Linked DNA regions of Homo sapiens: region 2 is linked to region 1. The links come from fine-mapping of genetic effects on gene expression. Tissue or cell type: whole blood. Region 1 holds a variant in brackets; the other region holds the start of a gene. All regions are shown on one strand. Distances are from middle to middle.

Region 1 (8,000 bases):
TTTTATTATTGTCTTTAAGATGAGATTTCACTGTTGCCCAGGCTGGAGTGCAGTGGAGCAATCATAGCTTACTGCAGCCTCTACCTCCTGGGCTCCAGTGATCCTCACACCTCAGCTTCCCAAGTAACTGGAACCACAGGTGCACACCGCCACGCCCGGCTAAATTTTTTAAATTTCATTTTCTAGAGATAGGGTCTTACTTTTGCTGTCCAGGCTGATCTCCAACTTCTGGGCTCAAACAATCCTCCTGCTTTGGCCTCCCAAAGTGCTAGGACTACAGGCGTGAGCCACCACACCCAACCCAAGATAAATACTTTTTCTTTTTTTTTTTTTTTTTTTTTGAGACGGAGTCTCCCTCTGTCGCCAGGCTGGAGTACAGTGGTGCAATCTCGGCTCACTGCAACCTCTGACTCTCTGGTTCAAGTGATTCTCCTGCCTCAGCCTCCTGAGTAGCTGGGATTACAGGCACGTGCCACCAAACCCGGCTAATTTTGTATTTTTAGTAGAGACGGGGTTTCTCCACATTGGCCAGGCTGGTCTCGAACTGCTGACCTCATGATCTGCCCGCCTCGGCCTCCCAAAGTGCTGGGATTACAGGCGTGAGCCACCACACCCGGCCAAAACTTACTTTTTAAACAAATATGAAAAGTGGATGTGGGGGTGACTGGACTGAATAATAATAATGACAATGGCAGCACGGCAGCAGCTCACATTTGCAGCACTGCTTGGAGTTGCTTTAAAGTCCACTCCTAGAAAGGCACCCAGGAAATACTCCTAAGGGCCAGGGATGGTGGCTCATGACTGTAATCCCAGCACTTTGGAAGGCCAAGGCGGGAGAATCGCTTAAGGCCAGGAGTTCGAGACCAGCCTGGGCAACAAAGCAAGACTGCATTTCTACACAAAATACAATTAGCCAAGTGTGGTGACGTGTGCCTGTCGTCCCAGGTAATTGGGAGGCTGAGGTGGAAAGATCACTCGAGCCTAGGACTGGGAGGTTGGGGCTGCAGGGAGCCATGATCACACCACTACACTCCAGCCCAGGTAACAGGGTGACAGTCTGACCCAAAAAAAAAGAAAGAAAAAAAGAAAGATTCCTGATTCCTGGCCTGGCGTGGTGGCTCACGCCTTTAATCCCAGCACTTTGGGAGGCAGAGGCGGGCAGGTCACCTGAGGTCAGGAGTTTCAGACCAGCTTGGCCAACATGGTGAAACCCCGTCTCTACTAAAAATACAAAAATTAACCAGGCGTGGTGGCACGCGCCCGTAATCCCAGCTACTCGGGAGGCTGAGGCAGGAGAATCACTTGAACCCAGGAGGTGGAGATTGCTGTAAGCCAAGATTGCGCCACTGCACTCCGGCCTGGGCCACAGAGTGAGACTCTGTCTCAAAAAAAAGAAAAAAGAAAGATCCGTAAGGAAAGAGTGCACAGGGTTGTGCACTGTACTGCTGGTAACAGAAAAAACAGGGAATGGACCCCAGTATCAGCGGCGGGGTCACAGAGACCCTGAGGCTGCTGGAGAATCAGGCAGAACCGTCAGTCCTGCTGCAGAGCCTCACAGATGGGGTGGCAAAAGCAAGCTTCACAGTAAAGCCTGTGCCCCAGACATGGCCTCAATTCTCCGTGTGTTGTCACCTGTACCCACAGGCTGTTTATTCACGGATGACCTTTGCCAACCTGTGGAAGCCACCTCCGGACAGGCCTGCAGGGACCCAGGGCCGTAGCAGGAGGGACTGGACGGGCTGCGGAGGTGGCCATGAGGCCTGCAGAGGACGCACTCAGCGGTCTGTGCCACCCATTTGAGTATCTGACGGTGTGACCCTGACCTCTCCCGGTGATCCTGATTGTCAACAAAACCCTAAAGTCCCCACCCCCCCGGGGCTGGCGCTCCTGCAGGACACTGTGGTCTGGTGATAGCCTTTATTTACATTACTGCAGGTGTTGCATTATGTGACCAAAACGCCGACCCCCAAAGCCACTCAGGGTATATTTCTGTGTTAAGGCGTTAAATCACTTACCATGGTCCAGTCCAGGGGGGCCACCACGCACGGTGGGGGGCGGGGGGGCAGCTGCAAGCTCCTGGGGGACAGAGGACAAGGTTCCACCAGCCAGGTGGGAAGGTGGGGCAGCAGCTGCCACCCTCCAACCGGAGGACACAGCGAGGTCACCCTGCTGGCCGACTGCAAGGAAGCCCCTGCGTGGGGTCCTGCAGGGAGCATCTCTGGGGTCCACGGCATCCATGCTAGGAGCTGCTTCAGGGACACCAAGGCCTCCTCCATCCTGCACAGGGTGGGCAGCAGGGGCAGGATCCGGCTGGCATTTCCTTTCCCGTGCGAATCCCCCAACCCCTGCACCCCCAGCCCCTCCTCAGCAGGACTGCAGGGCCAGGGCCGGGGATTTTATCTGCACAGAGTCGGGAGGGGACCAGGACCCCCAGGCACCCCGCTTCCTTGGCCTCCCAAAGATGATGAAAAGCTTCCATAAGAGCTTTCCCCCTTGAACAGGGTCAGACAGGTGGCGGTGGTTTTTCGTTGTTTTTTTAAGATGGAGTCTTGCTGTGTTGCCCAGGCTGGAGTGCAGTGGTGCAATCTTGGCTCACTGCAACCTCCGCCCCCTGGGTTCAAGCGATTCTCCTGCCTCAGCCTCCCGAGTAGCTGGGACTACAGGCGCCCGCCACCATGCCAGCTAATTTTTGTACTTTTTTAGTAGAGACAGGGTTTCACCATGTTGGTCAGGCTGGTCTCGACCTCCTGACCTCAGGTCATCCACCGCCTCGGCCTCCCAGAGTGCTGGCATTACAGGCGTGAGCCACCGCGCCCAGCCTAGTGGTGGGGTTTCAGGGCACTCTGCTAACAGCCACAGGCTTCATTCACATAAAGCACCCCGCCTGGGCCTGTTCCCTCCGTGAGGCTATTGGGGAGGGCGGGTCCCAGAGTCGCGCTCTTATCCTCCACGGACACACACACTGCCTGTTCTGAGCTCCACTTCCGGCTGGGTGCTGGGGAGAGAATAGGCTCTGGTCTGGCGGGAGGTGCTCGCTGTCTGGCCGGGCAGATGTGTGTCCCGGGACCTTATTTCTGAGCCACCTGTGCTGTCGTGGCTGGGAGACGCCGAGTGCCGAGGGAGCGCGGGCCTGGCCGGGGTCTCGGCTACTTCTCTCGGTGGGGAAGCAGGGACAGTCACCCCAGCAGCCCAGAATCGTTGTGAAGATCGACGTGGCCCGTGGCCGGAGCCCGGAACCGGGAGGGAAGTGGGACCAGGGGCTTGTGCTGGCCCCTGGGCCGCTCTGATACCAGTTGGGCGCCCACTGGATGGACTCCCAGTTAACAAGGCGGCCCTGCACTCCCACCTTGATCCTGACACCCGGACTCAGAGGTGGACAGGCAGGTGCCTGCCATAGGGGAGGAAAGAGGAGGCGCCTGCTCCCAGAGGCCCCACCTCAGGTCACGGCCACCACAGGCCAAGAGGACAGAATCACAGCCAAGCAGGGATGGTCTCCATCCTCTTCCAGAACCCCAGAGGGCCCTCAGGTCATGCAGAACAGAGCCAGCCGGGTGGGTCCCACCAGCTTGGCATTAATGGGACGACGGATGAATGCAGCCACAGCGTCATAAGAGCTTGGTCAGCCGCCCACACACACATGCTGGGACCCCACGAATGCCAGTCGGGGCTGACAGGCCACTGGTCCCCTGGGGAGCAGCTGGAGGGTGCACAGCCCTGGGCACCGCCCCAGACCTGACCCACTGGAAGGGCCTAGCCCACATCTCAGGCAAGCCTCTGCCACACCCACAGCCATGCTCCAGCCACTGGCCCTGGGGAGGGTCTGCCCTCCCCCCGGGCTCCGGGTACCAGAGTGGGCCTAGGCCATAGGGTCACCTGGCTGGTGTCTGTCCCGTCACCCAGGGCCCCGTGCTGGGGTGTACCAGGAGCAGGTGACACAGGGTGGACCAGAGACTCAGCCCCCAGGCGCCCTACCCGGGAGAACGCTGTTGCAGGGCTTGAACAAGTGTGTCCTGGAAAATCCACAAAATGGAGAACGGGAAGTTGGCCCTACTCCCAGGTGGCCTGGCCCCGGGCCATACCAAGTGGGAGGTGGGGAGAGCGCGCGTCCTGGAATAGAGTGCTGGCCTCCCCTGTCGCCACCCCTGCGGGGTCCTCCCGGGTCCCAAGAGCAGGGGGTGGTGGGGAGAGGCCGAGGGTGGAAGTTGGCCTGACAGCCTGGAGCCTGAAGGCCCGGACTCGGTTTACCCCATGTGAGAGGGACAGGCAGAGGGAACACAGTGTACGCTGAAGGCGTCTGGGAGCCCTGCCGAAGCCTCGGTGCTGAGTTCGCAGCAGCTTGAGAATGGGGCTGCCTGAAACCAAGGCCAGCATCGCGCACCGTGAATATCCACAGCCCGCAGGGAGGGAGGGGCGGCCCCAAATACTTCGATTTCCAAAATCCTCTTCATCACAGTGTCTTGTGGAACTAGTACCACATGGATCAGATGAAGTCGTCAACTATTTTAAGATGAGAATTTTATCTCAGTTTGATCTGTAAATCTAAGAATCTAAGCAATCTCAATGTTTTCAAAGAAGATCACGGTGGGAGAACCAGATAAACTTGCCTGCTGTTCAGGAGAAAAAAGAAACGTGCAAAATAATGCAAGGAGGAGGGGCCTC[C/T]GGACATGAGGTCAGGAAGACAATGGGGTTCTGGAAAACTGGGATAAGAGTCTAGGGACAGACCCAAATCTACTTGCCATAAAGACAGCACTTCAGTGGGGAAAAGAATGCTTTTTTGGGAAATAAAGTTGGGACAATTTGTGGAAAAAAAGTTTTGCTTCCTACCTTACTCCTTACCAGGAATACTTTCTAAAATTAGACATAAGCATTTAAATATATGGGGAAAAAAAAACCCCACTACATTTCTAGAAGAAAATCTCAAATGTTTTATGATCTTACAGCGGAGAAGATATTCCTGAGATGACACAAAAATGCAGGAGCCGTAAAGAGAAAAAAACTAATGACCAGTAACAATTTTAGATGCTTAGCTTAAAGAAAAAAATACAAACAAAGTCAAAGACTAATGACAGATAGAAAAAAGAAACACTTCCGGGTCAGCCGAGAAATGGTATTCAGCAATAAATGTGTCAGAGTCCCAAAAAAAAAAAAAAAAAAAAAAAAAAAAAAACACTTCTACTAGACAGAAAGCGAATTTTCTTAATCTGTAAAGTGCACCTAGAAACCACCACCATCCACCCAACAGAAAAATGAGCCAAGAAGATAAAATACAAATGGCTTTTAAATAGTCAAACGTTTATAATAAACATATTTTCCAATCTCGAAACGACTGTCAGTGGTAACAATGATCAACGTAACATAGATGTAACAGGAACATCACGACGTTCGACTATACTTACAGGAAACACAAGCTACAGTGAAATACTATCTCACGCCTACCAGGTCTGCAAAATCCAGCTTGGGCAAGGGTGTCGCCGGCCCCCTCTTATGCTGGTGGGGGAGGGCGATTTGGTACCACCCCTTTAGGGGCCTAAATACAGCCCTCGCACTTCTGCACCAAGGAATTTAACCTAAGAAAATAGTCCGACTTGGGCAAAAAACGGTTTGTACAAGCAATAGTCAAGCTAGCATTGTTCGTTATAAAAGACAGCAAAAACCCTAAATTTCTACAGGAAAGGGGATAAAGTCTGGTGCTATAAAACTCCGTTTCCGGAGGAATCCCACCTGTATCTGAATGCATGGGGCGCTCTCCGAGCTACGTTAAGTATAAGAGCCCCAAGTAAAGTAACTGACCTTTTGCAGAAACGCACGTAGATGTTCCTGCATAGACTTTCTTTGCAGACCCGTAAGAAACGGGTTTCCCTCTGCCCCAGGGGAGAACTGGGCCTTGGAGGTTAGGACTGGGAAAAACACATCAAGTCTTCACCAAATACCCTTTCAGGCTCCTTGAATTTTCTACTCTGTGCACCTGAACACACTTTTGTTCTCTTGCAAGCAGTTGCTTTGCACTGGAGGCAATGAAGACACGGCGGAGTCCCAGCTCGCAGGGAGCTCAGGTTCTGACGGCGTCAGAGGACAACACGCTCTGGACCAGCGCAGCGCCCAAGGGTCAGCGGCAGCAGCGAGCAGGGGGCACGGGATGCGGGGAGGCTCTTCGGGAGGCATGAAAGGCAGACGTGTTCCGAAACGTGAGCCGCGCTGAGGGGCACGGCGCACGACCGGGGACAGAAGGAAGACACTGCGGTCGCAAAGCCCTGGCCGTGCAAAGGCCCCGTGGTCAGCCAGGAGCCCAGGCGTCCCCTGCTCTAGCGAGGTTTCCTTCCGAACGTCCCGTAGCACCGCTTACCATGGAACGGCGGGCGCTGCCTCGCAGCCCCGACCCCGCGGCGGCCCCCACGGGCCTACGAGGAACTCGAGGCCGAGGGAAGGAGTGAGAGCGGCCGGAAAGGGGCAGGGCCGAGCCGGACCGGTACCTGGCTGGGTCCCAGCGGCCGCCACTTACCACCGAGGCCGCCTCTTCGTCCACAGCCTGACGCCAGCCACCGCCGCCGCCGTCTCCACTGCCGCACGCACGCCGCCACTTCCGCTTCCGTCCGTGCTGCGGCCCCGCACGTGACGCAGCGCCTTCTCGCGCCCAGACTGAAGCACCGCCCCCCCTTAAAGGGGCCGCGGACTAGAGCTAGCTGGATGCAGCTTGGGATCCCGGCCTCGCCACCGCCTGGTCGCGCGACACAGGCTGAACCCTGCCCAACCCTAAGGTGGACAACAGGCCACCGGTTCCCGAGTCCTCCCGGTCCTAAGCCTTCTGCCCTAGAGATCGTAGGAACTCTTCTCGTGATCCCAGCTCCAGTGTCGGCTCCCTCTTCCAGGGGAGACCCTCGGGGCCCAAGCACCTGCCACCGCCCTCTGCTGGACCCCAGCTTCGCCATCTACGAAGGAAGCGGCCTGTCCGAGCTCTGAGGTCCGTCAAGCGCGGCACCTCAGGACCCAGAGTGCGCTGTCCTGGCCCCTCTGCAGTAGGACTGACGGGAAGCTGTCGAGGGGGCAGTCCCGCGATGGCAGCAGGGCCCCCACGCCTGGCGTCCTCATCGCGCCCACCCAGCAGGGCTCACCAGCCTCCCTAGGAAGCAGGCAGGGGTCCTGGGCTCAAACGCTGCCCCACCCATCATCGCCCAGGCAACCAGCTCCCTAAGGGCTCCCCGGACTAGACAGAGACCCACCCCACTTCCGCAGAGTAAAACCTATAAGGGGGTCCGTGCCGATCTCTCCTAGGGACTCAGGGACGAAACCTGGGAACCCCGGCCCCCTTTCGAGCTCGCTGAGCGCTCGAGAGAGTGAGCAGAGCCATGAAAGGAAGGAGAGCAGCCCTAAAATTTTAAATCTTTAATTTCCGTTTTCACGTATTTTCTTCTTGCTTCCAAAAGGAAAGGAGTGCGTAGCTCTGTTGCCTGTACATCGTCCACAGCCCCTGGGTCGGGGCGGGGTCCCCTGGGCCGCCCGGGGGGTCCACATGCAGCCCCTGGGTGGGGGCCGGCGCGGGGTGAGGTCCGGGGGCCGCCTTATTGCTGAGGTCCGGCCGGTTGGGGCCGCCGCTAGGCGCGCTGGCTGGGCAGCTCCTGGGAGATGAAGCGACGCAGGCGCTCCAGGTACTGGCTGTAGAGCTCGATGTCGTTGTGCCCGGCGCCCTCCACCCACAGCGGCTCCACCGCCTTGGGGCAGCGCTCGTAGAGCGCCAGCCCGTGCGAGAAGTCGATCACCTCGTCCTCCGTGCCGTGGATGATGAGCACGGGAGACGTGATCTTGGACACCTTCTCGATGCTGCGGGAGGGTCGTGGAGCCGGTGAGACTTCGCGCCCGGCCCGGGCCCCGCCCCGCCCCCGTCCCCGCCCGGGCCGCTCACTTAGGGAAGGCGTCGAAGCAGTAGGTCTTCTTGGTGTCGGGGAAGGCGACGCGCATGCCCGAGGTGAGCGGCGAGTGCAGCACCACCGCGGCACACTCGTAGC
Region 2 (8,000 bases), 32 kb after region 1:
TGGGATTACAGGCGTGAGCCCCCGAGCTTGGTCCTGGTCATTTCTTGACTGCCTGTCACTTGGGGCCACCCAGCCCGCCAGTGTCTGACTTAGGCTTCTGGCTGATTCTCTGCGGCCACTAAGCTCACAATTGGGGAACCGACTCCATGATTTTGCAACATTTCGATGCCGGACCCTGACGCATTACTGTGAGTCGGGAGGGTCACGTTCCGTTTGTTTTTTGAGACGGTCTGGCTGTCACCCAGGCTGGAGTGAAGTGGCATTGGTGTGATCTCAGCTCACTGCAACCTCTGCCTCCTGGGCTCAAGCCATCCTTCTGCCGCAGCCTCCCGGCATGTAGCTGAGACTACAGGCGCCACCATTCCCAGCTATGTTGTTTTTTTTTTTTTAAAGAAAGAGACAAGGTCTCGCTGTGTTGCCCAGGGCAATTTCAAAATTCCTAGACTCAAGCAATCCCTCCGCCTCGGCCTCCCAAAGTCCTGGGATTACACTGGGATTACAGGTGTGAGCCAGCACACCGGCTGTGGGCCACATTACTTTTGAAAAGTTCTGGATAAAGGCCGGGCGCGGTGGCTCATGCCTGTAATCCCAGCACTTTGGGAGGCCGAGGCGGGCGGATCACGAGGTCAACAGATCGAGACCATCCTGGCGAACATGGTGAAACCCCCGTCTCTACTAAAAATACAAAAAAATTTGCGGGGCGTGGTGGTGGGCGCCTGTAGTCCCAGCTACTCGGGAGGCTGAGGCAGGAGAATGGCGTGAATCCGGGAGGTGGAGCTTGCAGGGAGGTGGAGCTTGCAGTGAGCTGAGATCGCGCCACTGCACTCCAGCCTGGGCGACAGAGTGAGACTCCTTCTCAAAAAAAAAAAAAAAAAAAAAAGAAAGAAAAAGAAAAGTTCTGGATAAAGAACAATGTCAATTAAAAAAGGGGTCCCATCAGTAGAGGCTGAAATCATGACTGAAACTAGCTTAAAGCCCAAAGCAAAACAAAAACCCGAAAGAAGGCCAGGCATGGTGGCTCGCACTATCCCAGCATTTTGGGAGGCTGAGGCAGGTAGATCACCAGAGGTCAGGAGTTTGAGACCAGCCTGGCCAACATGGTGTACTAAAAAATACAAAAATTAGCCAGCTGGAGCGCAGTGGCGCAATCATAGCTCACTTCAGCCTTGACCTTCTGGACTCCAGTGATCCTCCCACCTCGGCCTCCTGAGTAGCTGTCCCAGCTGTCCCACTTACTCAGTGCCCCTCCGGACCCAGCAATTCTTTTTTTTTTTTTTTTTGCAGAGATGGCAGCATGTCTCAAACTCCTGGCCTCAGGCAAACCTCATGTGTCAGCCTCCCAAAGTGCTGGAATTACAGGCACGAGCCACCATGCCTGGCCTAGATTCATTTTTTTAGATGCAGAGAATCTGGGCTTTGGATTTAATGACTTACCAAATAAAGGCTGTCTTTTTTTTTTTTAAAACAAATCAGCAAAACAGGGGCTCTTGGCTAGTTTGCATGAGGCATCCAGGGATGGAGAGATGTGTATTTAAGCTAAAAAAAGAAAAAGTGAAACTCACAGCAGTCTGAGTTTTTATTCAGAAAAGGAAAAAAGAAAGCAACTGAGAGCGAAATAGTTTCCTGGAATGCTGTTTTTTTTTTTTTTTTTTTTTTTTTTTTTTTTTGAGATGGAGTCTCACTCTGTCGCCCAGGCAACAGAGTGCAATGGTGCGATCTCAGCTCATCGCAACCTTCGTCTCCCGGGTTCAAGTGATTCTCCTGCCTCAGCCTTCCCAGCAGCTGGGATTAAAGGCCCCTGCCACCATGCCTGGCTAATTTTTGTATTTTTAGTGGAGATGGGGTTTCGCCATGTTGGCCAGGCTGGTCTCGAACCCCTGACCTCAGGTGATCCACCCACCTTGGCCTCTCAAAGTGCTGGGAGTACAGGCATGAGCCACCGCATCCGACCTTGAAATGCACTTTCTTTGAAACACGTCCTCCCCTTTCTCACCATAAACTCCCTCACACTCTGCAGGTTTACCTAACTGTATGCATCTAATTATGTGATTACCTAAAAGTTCCAGGAACAGGCTGGGCACGGTGGCTCACGCCTGTAATCTCAGCACTTTGGGAGGCCGAGGCGGGCAGATCACCTGAAGTCAGGAGTTTGAGACCAGCCTGACCAACATGGAGAAACCCCATCTCTATTAAAAATACAAAATTAGCCAGGTGTGGTGGCGTGTGCCTGTAATCCCAGCTACTCGGGAGGCTGAGGCAGGAGAATCACTTGAATCTGGGAGGTGGAGGTTGCGGTGAGCTGAGATCGTGCTGCTGCACTCCAGCCTCGGTGACAAGAGCGAGACTGTCTCGAAAAAAAAGAAAAAAGAAAGAACGTTTTAGAGCTAATCTGGAGACAGGCCAAGCACGGAGACCCACCTGCAAAATCCCAGAGATTTCCTCAAGGTGGTCTGCAACCCGGCCCTTATTAGGATGAGGCCAGCCTGCGCTTTTAAGCCACCAAAATTCATGAACACACAGAGCTTATAATCAGCACCTCCCCTGCACACCCACCATTCCCAGTTCCCCTTTTTTAGCCCCTCACCCCAGCCTCAAGTTTGAAGGGGTTTCTGGAGGCCTAAACCAGCTGCCTCCCTGCTGCGAACTCTGAAAGGAAGTCACCTTCCTTTCACTGCACTTTTTCCTCCTTACTGGTTTGTCAAGACTCTGGCATCGGAGCCTGAGCTGGTTACAGCCAGGCACTGTCAAGCTGTTGGGGGAGGGGATGACAAATTCCCTCCCGTTGAGAACCACTTGGTTAAACCTGTCCAACTGGAAGGAGTAACAAATTGCTCATAAAATATGCATGTTTTGGTGAAACCCCTTCTCTACTAAAAGTACAAAAACTAGCCAGAAATCGCTTGAACCCAGGAGGTGGAGGTTGCAGTGAGCCTAGCACTGCACTCCAGCCTGGGTGACAGACTGAGGCTACGTCTCAAAAAAAAAAAAAAAAATGTGCTTGTTTGGCCCAGGAGAGGCAAGAGGTCTTCTTCACCTACGTTACTGGTGAGAAAACTCAAACCTGAGGGCGGCCCACGCCGGAGTGCAGTAACAGGCAGAACTGGAACCTGGCCCCATCCCGGACTCAGGGGACGGGTGTCATATACCCCCTCTGCCTCATCCTTCCCACTCTGCTAACCTTCCAAAGATCCCCCGGGTTCCGAGTTTTCCCTGGCCGCTTGATGGGATTCGAACCTGCAAACTCAGCGCTCGCCCAGCGCAGCGGCCCCGCCTCTCCTCCCCTCCCGCCGCCCGGAGGTCATGTGAGCGCAGTGCCGGAGCGGGGCGGGGCGAGGCGGCGGCGCGCAGTGCCTACTAGCAATTGTAGTCCTTGCCCCACCTTGGCCTGGCGAAGATCCCGCCCCTGGAACTACGCTCCCGTCGTGCTCCGCGGCTCCAGGCGGAGACGAGGCGGGGTGAGGTGGGTTGGGCCGGGCCGGTTGCTAAGACTTGGCGAAGCGCTGCGCTCGCGCCCGGATCCCTCAGGTAAGCGCGCGGCCCCGAGGTCTCGGGTTCTCCAGGCTCAGACTTCCCCAGAGGGGGAGTAGGGGCTGACATGGGGGGTCTCGGCGGTGAGGGGCGCCGGCCGTTTGTGGGGAGAAAACGGGGGGCCCAGGCCAGCCTCGCGCGCGTCTCGGGCGGGCCGGTGGGCGACGCGGGGAGGCGGCGCGAATGCGCGTGCGCGCGCGCGCGCGGCGCTGGCCTGGGGGAAGCCTCAGGACCGCGCTCCCCCGGGCCTAGCGCCTTTCTGCGCGTGTGCGCCCTTATGGTCGGTGCGGGAGACCCCGTATCCTCCAGCTGCTTCCGGTGGCCCTTCCTCAGGTCATGTCCCGCAGTCCCCTGCCTCTGAACCGCGCTCTCGCGAGTTTCCGTAGCCTTCGCGTCCTTCCTCCCCAGCTCTGATTCGCCTTTATGTGGAGATTCCCCTAGGCCTTGGTACATCCCCAGAATTGACCATCGTTCCTCATCGTTACCTAGAGTATGAGTTTTTCAGGTTTTTGTATCACAGGCCCCCAGTTATCTCCCACACACTACCCCGAGGACCGAGGTTCCCCGCTGTCTTGCAGAGAAGGCCTCCTTGTAGGGTGGCCAGAAACAGAGGATCGACTCCGTGGAAACAAGGACGGCTGGGTGCAGTTCCTCACCCTATAACCCCAGCACTTTGGGAGGCCAAGGCGAGTGGATCACCTGAGGTCCGGAGTTCGAGACCAGCCTGTCTAACATGGTGAAACTCCATCTCTGCCAAAAATACAAAAATTAGCTGGGCGTGGTGTCACGCGCCTGTAAAACCAGCTACTGGGGAGGCCAAGGCAGGAGAATCGCTTGGACTTGGGAGGTGGAGGTTGCAGTGAGCCAAGATGGCACCATTGTACTCCAGGCTGAGCAAGCTAGCAAGACTCACTCTCCAAAAAAAAGAAAAAAAGATTTTTTTTTAATAAGCCAGGCATGGTGACACATGTCTGTGGTCCCAGCTACTTGGGAGGCTGAGGCAGGAGGATTGCTTGAGCCCCGGAGGTTGAGGCTGCAGTGAACTGTGATGGCACTACTGCATTCCAGCCTGGGCAACAGAGCGAGACCCTGTCTCTAAATAAATAAATAAAATACATACGTGTAGCGCCGGCCGTGGTGGCTCACGCCTGTAATCCTAGCACTTTGGGAGGCCAAGGCGGGTGGATCACGAGATCAGGAGATCAAGACCATCCTGGCTAACACGGTGAAACCCTGTCTCTACTAAAAATAAAAAAAAGCCAGGCATGGTGGTGGACGCCTGTGGTCCCGGCTACTCCCAAAGGAGGCTGAGGCAGGAAAATGGTGTGAACTCAGGAGGCAGAGCTTGCAGTGAGCCAGGATCGTGCCACTGCACTCCAGCCTGGGCGACAGAGTGAGACTCCGTCTCAAAAAAAAAAAAAAATTGTGTGTGTGTGTGTGTGTGTGTAAAGAAACAAGCCCCAGGCTGGGCGCAGTGGCTCACGCCTGTAATCCCAGCACTTTGGGGGGCCTAGGCAGGTATATCACAAGGTCAGGAGTTCGAGAGCAGCCTGACCAATATGGTGAAATCCCACCTCTACTAAAAATATAAAAAATTAGCCAGGCATAGTGGTGCACATCTGTTGTCCCAGCTGCTTGGGAGGCTAAGGCAGGAGAATTGCTTGAACCAGGGAGGCAGAGGTTGCAGTGAGCCAGGATCGCGCCACTGCCCTCCAGCCTGGGGGACAGAGTGAGACTGTCCCAAAAAAAAAAAAGCCCCCACGCAGACTATTGGTGTGCCCTGGAACTGAGCATTAGCTGTTCCCTCTCCGAGTTCTCTCCCCTACTTCCCCAGCCTTCCAGGCTGGGCTGTGGGTCACTGCCTCCGAGGAGCCCTCCTGGATTCTGCTGAAGATGGTCAGGCCCCTCCATCCCCCCATTTTCTCTTATGTACCTGACAGCCCTGCCTTAAAAAAAAAAAAAAGGTAGAGCAGGAATTCCCATTTCACAGGGGTGGAAGCCGAGGCTTGGAGGAGTCAGGACTGGTGCCTGAGTTCTCGCAGTCAGGAATTGACCGCGCTGGGCTGAACGCCTCTAGGGCAGGTTGGGGACTGGGTGTGTTTTCTGGGTGGACATACCCAGGTCCCGGCGCGGACCTTGGCCTCCTCATCTGTGGGCTTAGATAAAGGCCTCCCAGCCTCCTGTTCACCAGGGTTGTCACCACGCAGGGTCTGACTCACCTGCCTGGAGCTATGCCGGTTCCCAGCCCAGGCTGGCGGCCGTGTTCTGCTGGGACCTGGGACCTGGGCTGCCTGCCCTCCTGAGGGGTCCCAGTGGTCGGTCGCCTGCCTTCTGGGTGGGTGTGGTAGAGGGAGGGTCAGGTGGCCCCCTGCTGTTGGGGGGCAGTCGCTGTGGGAGTGAGTCGTCCCCCCGGGCCATAGCAGGTAGGTAGGAGGTGCTCTGGCAGTTGAGGCCGCCCTGGCCTGGGACAGTCAATCAGCCTGAACACTGTGCCTGTTCCGGGATTTTGACCTGCCCTCCAAGGGCGCGGCGGGCCCAGCCTGCAGTGTCCCGGCAGCTGCCTCCTCTCTGGGTCGTTTGTTTTTCATCAGACAGAGGTTGTACTCTTGGAGGGACAAGCGAGGCTGTGTTTGTCTTTTACCCTGGAGACAGTGGAGTGTTTGTGGCCTAGCAGGGCCGTGCGGGCCTCTCGGTCCTGGTCGCGCGTGGTGTGCGTTTTGGGAGGGCCCAGCGAGTCGGCTGCTATGGGCCCCACCTGGCACGGGGCCTCGGGCAGCGGCAGCACCTGGCGCTGCCTCCGCGCTTCCTGCTCCCGGCTCCCACTGCATCTCCGGTTCTGTGCTTTGTTGAACGCGTGAGCTTCGGGCAGCGCTGGGGCCGCTTCAGCGTGACCTCCAAGGCCACTGGCCTGGAGTTCCACTGGCTGCTGGTCCCCCATCTGTGGGGCGCCCCGGCGGCTGAGGCGTGGACCAGGCAGTGCATGTCGAGGAGTAGCACCCACAGCTGCGCGGCTGCGAAATGATCCAGAGACACATCCCTGTCTGCGGGAGGAGCCGTCCATACCAGCGGGGATGTGTAGTCCAGGCTGGCAGTTCAGGATCACCCGGCTGGAGTCATTTTAAGATCATCTGCGGCTTAGCCCCAGCACCATCTGAGGCAGTACTGTCTGCTAGAAATAACTGTGAGCACACAGGTAGTAAGGTTTTTAGGATTTTATTATTATTTATTTATTTGAAAAAAGGAACAGGGTCTCTCTATCTTGCCCACGTTGGTCTCAAACTCCTGTGCTTAAGTGATCCTCTCGCCTTGGTCTCCTGAGTAGCTGGGACTACATGTGCACACCACCGTGCCCAACTAATTTATACTTTTAAGCAATGTGGGCTGGGCACGGTGGCTCACACCTGTAATCCCAGCACTTTGGGAGGCTGAGGCAGGTGGATCACCTGAGGTCAGGAGTTCCAAGACCAGCCTGGCCAACATGGTGGAACCCCGTCTCTACTGAAAATACAAAAATTAGCCGGGCGTGGTGGCATGTGCCTGTATTCCCAGCTACTAGGGGGGCTGAGGCAGGAGAATCGCTTGAACCTGGGAAGTGGAGGTTGCAGTGAGCTGAGATCATGCCACTGCACTCCAGCCTGGGCAACAGAGTGAGACTCTGTCTGAAAAAAAAAAAAATGTGGGCTGGGCATGGTGGCTTACGCCTGTAATCCAACCTCAGGCCTGCGGTGCGAGTCTGTGGGGGCAGATGCAGGTGGGGGAAGGCTGGCCAGCTGAGACTGTGGTTTGGGGGTGTTCAGGTGGGGTGGATGCCAGAGATGTGGGAGCCAGAGGCGCTGTCCCCCAGGGCCCTGTGAGCAGTCCCTGCAGGCTGGCTGTCCCCACGCCTGCCTCTCTGCTGTGCTGTCTGCCCGCCTAGGGCAGGCTCCCTTCTAATGGGCGGATCCCGAGAGCTGGGGGCCCCACCAGCCCTTCCTCTCCAGTGGAGTGGCCCTACTGCCTCATGTCCACCTGTGCCAGCAGCAGGGATGGTAATGGCTCTACTATCTCCTGTCCTCACCTGTGCCAGCAGCAGGGATGGTAACGGCTTTACTGCCTCCCGTCCTCACCTGTGCCAGTGGCTGGGATGTCTTCACCTGTGCCAGCAGCAGGGATGTCCTCACCTGTGCCAGCGGCAGGGATGGTAACAGTGCTGGTGATGTCAGGCCGGGAGGTTCTCACCCGAGAGCCGCCTTGGCACACTGCCCGGCAGTCAGGGATGTTAGCAGGAGCCCCGGGAGTGATCCCAGCTCTTCCCGCAGCCCCACTCCAGCCAGGGCCTCCTCTGTGACTGAGTAAGCAGGGACACCCCAGTGGCTGCCTGCTCCACCCGACAGCCAGGGCCCACCACAGCTGCAGGAATGTGGTCAAGGGATGGGAAGTCGGGCCCACCAGGGGAGGGGCTGCGCTCCGGGGCTTACGTTTCGTGGCTTGTC

The links. PIP is the estimated chance that this variant, and not a neighbour inherited with it, causes the effect.
Region 2: it holds the start of SCAMP4, and the variant in region 1 is fine-mapped to the expression of SCAMP4 in whole blood (TOPMed, PIP above 0.99).

Annotation. Positions count from the first base shown.
Region 1 is chr19:1,869,611-1,877,610 of GRCh38, forward strand. ABHD17A (abhydrolase domain containing 17A, depalmitoylase) reads right to left here. Exons shown (of 5, transcript NM_001130111.2): 4 at 7,898-8,000; 5 at 7,200-7,815. The coding sequence ends at 7,590. It also overlaps a transcript of KLF16 not described here. Among named protein-coding and RNA genes, the nearest start is that of KLF16, 10 kb to the left of the region's middle. RefSeq lists enhancers at 2,760-3,054, 2,839-3,162, 3,932-4,647, 5,836-6,536, 6,537-7,236 and 2 more and silencers at 6,259-6,508, 6,889-7,030. The variant C/T (reference allele first, on the strand shown) is at 4,660.
Region 2 is chr19:1,901,915-1,909,914 of GRCh38, forward strand. SCAMP4 (secretory carrier membrane protein 4) reads left to right here and starts at 3,485. Exons shown (of 7, transcript NM_079834.4): 1 at 3,485-3,525. It overlaps ADAT3 (adenosine deaminase tRNA specific 3), which reads left to right and starts at 3,485. Exons shown (of 2, transcript NM_138422.4): 1 at 3,485-3,525. RefSeq lists enhancers at 2,479-2,538, 2,819-2,878, 3,899-3,988, 6,064-6,875 and silencers at 3,209-3,538, 3,589-3,738.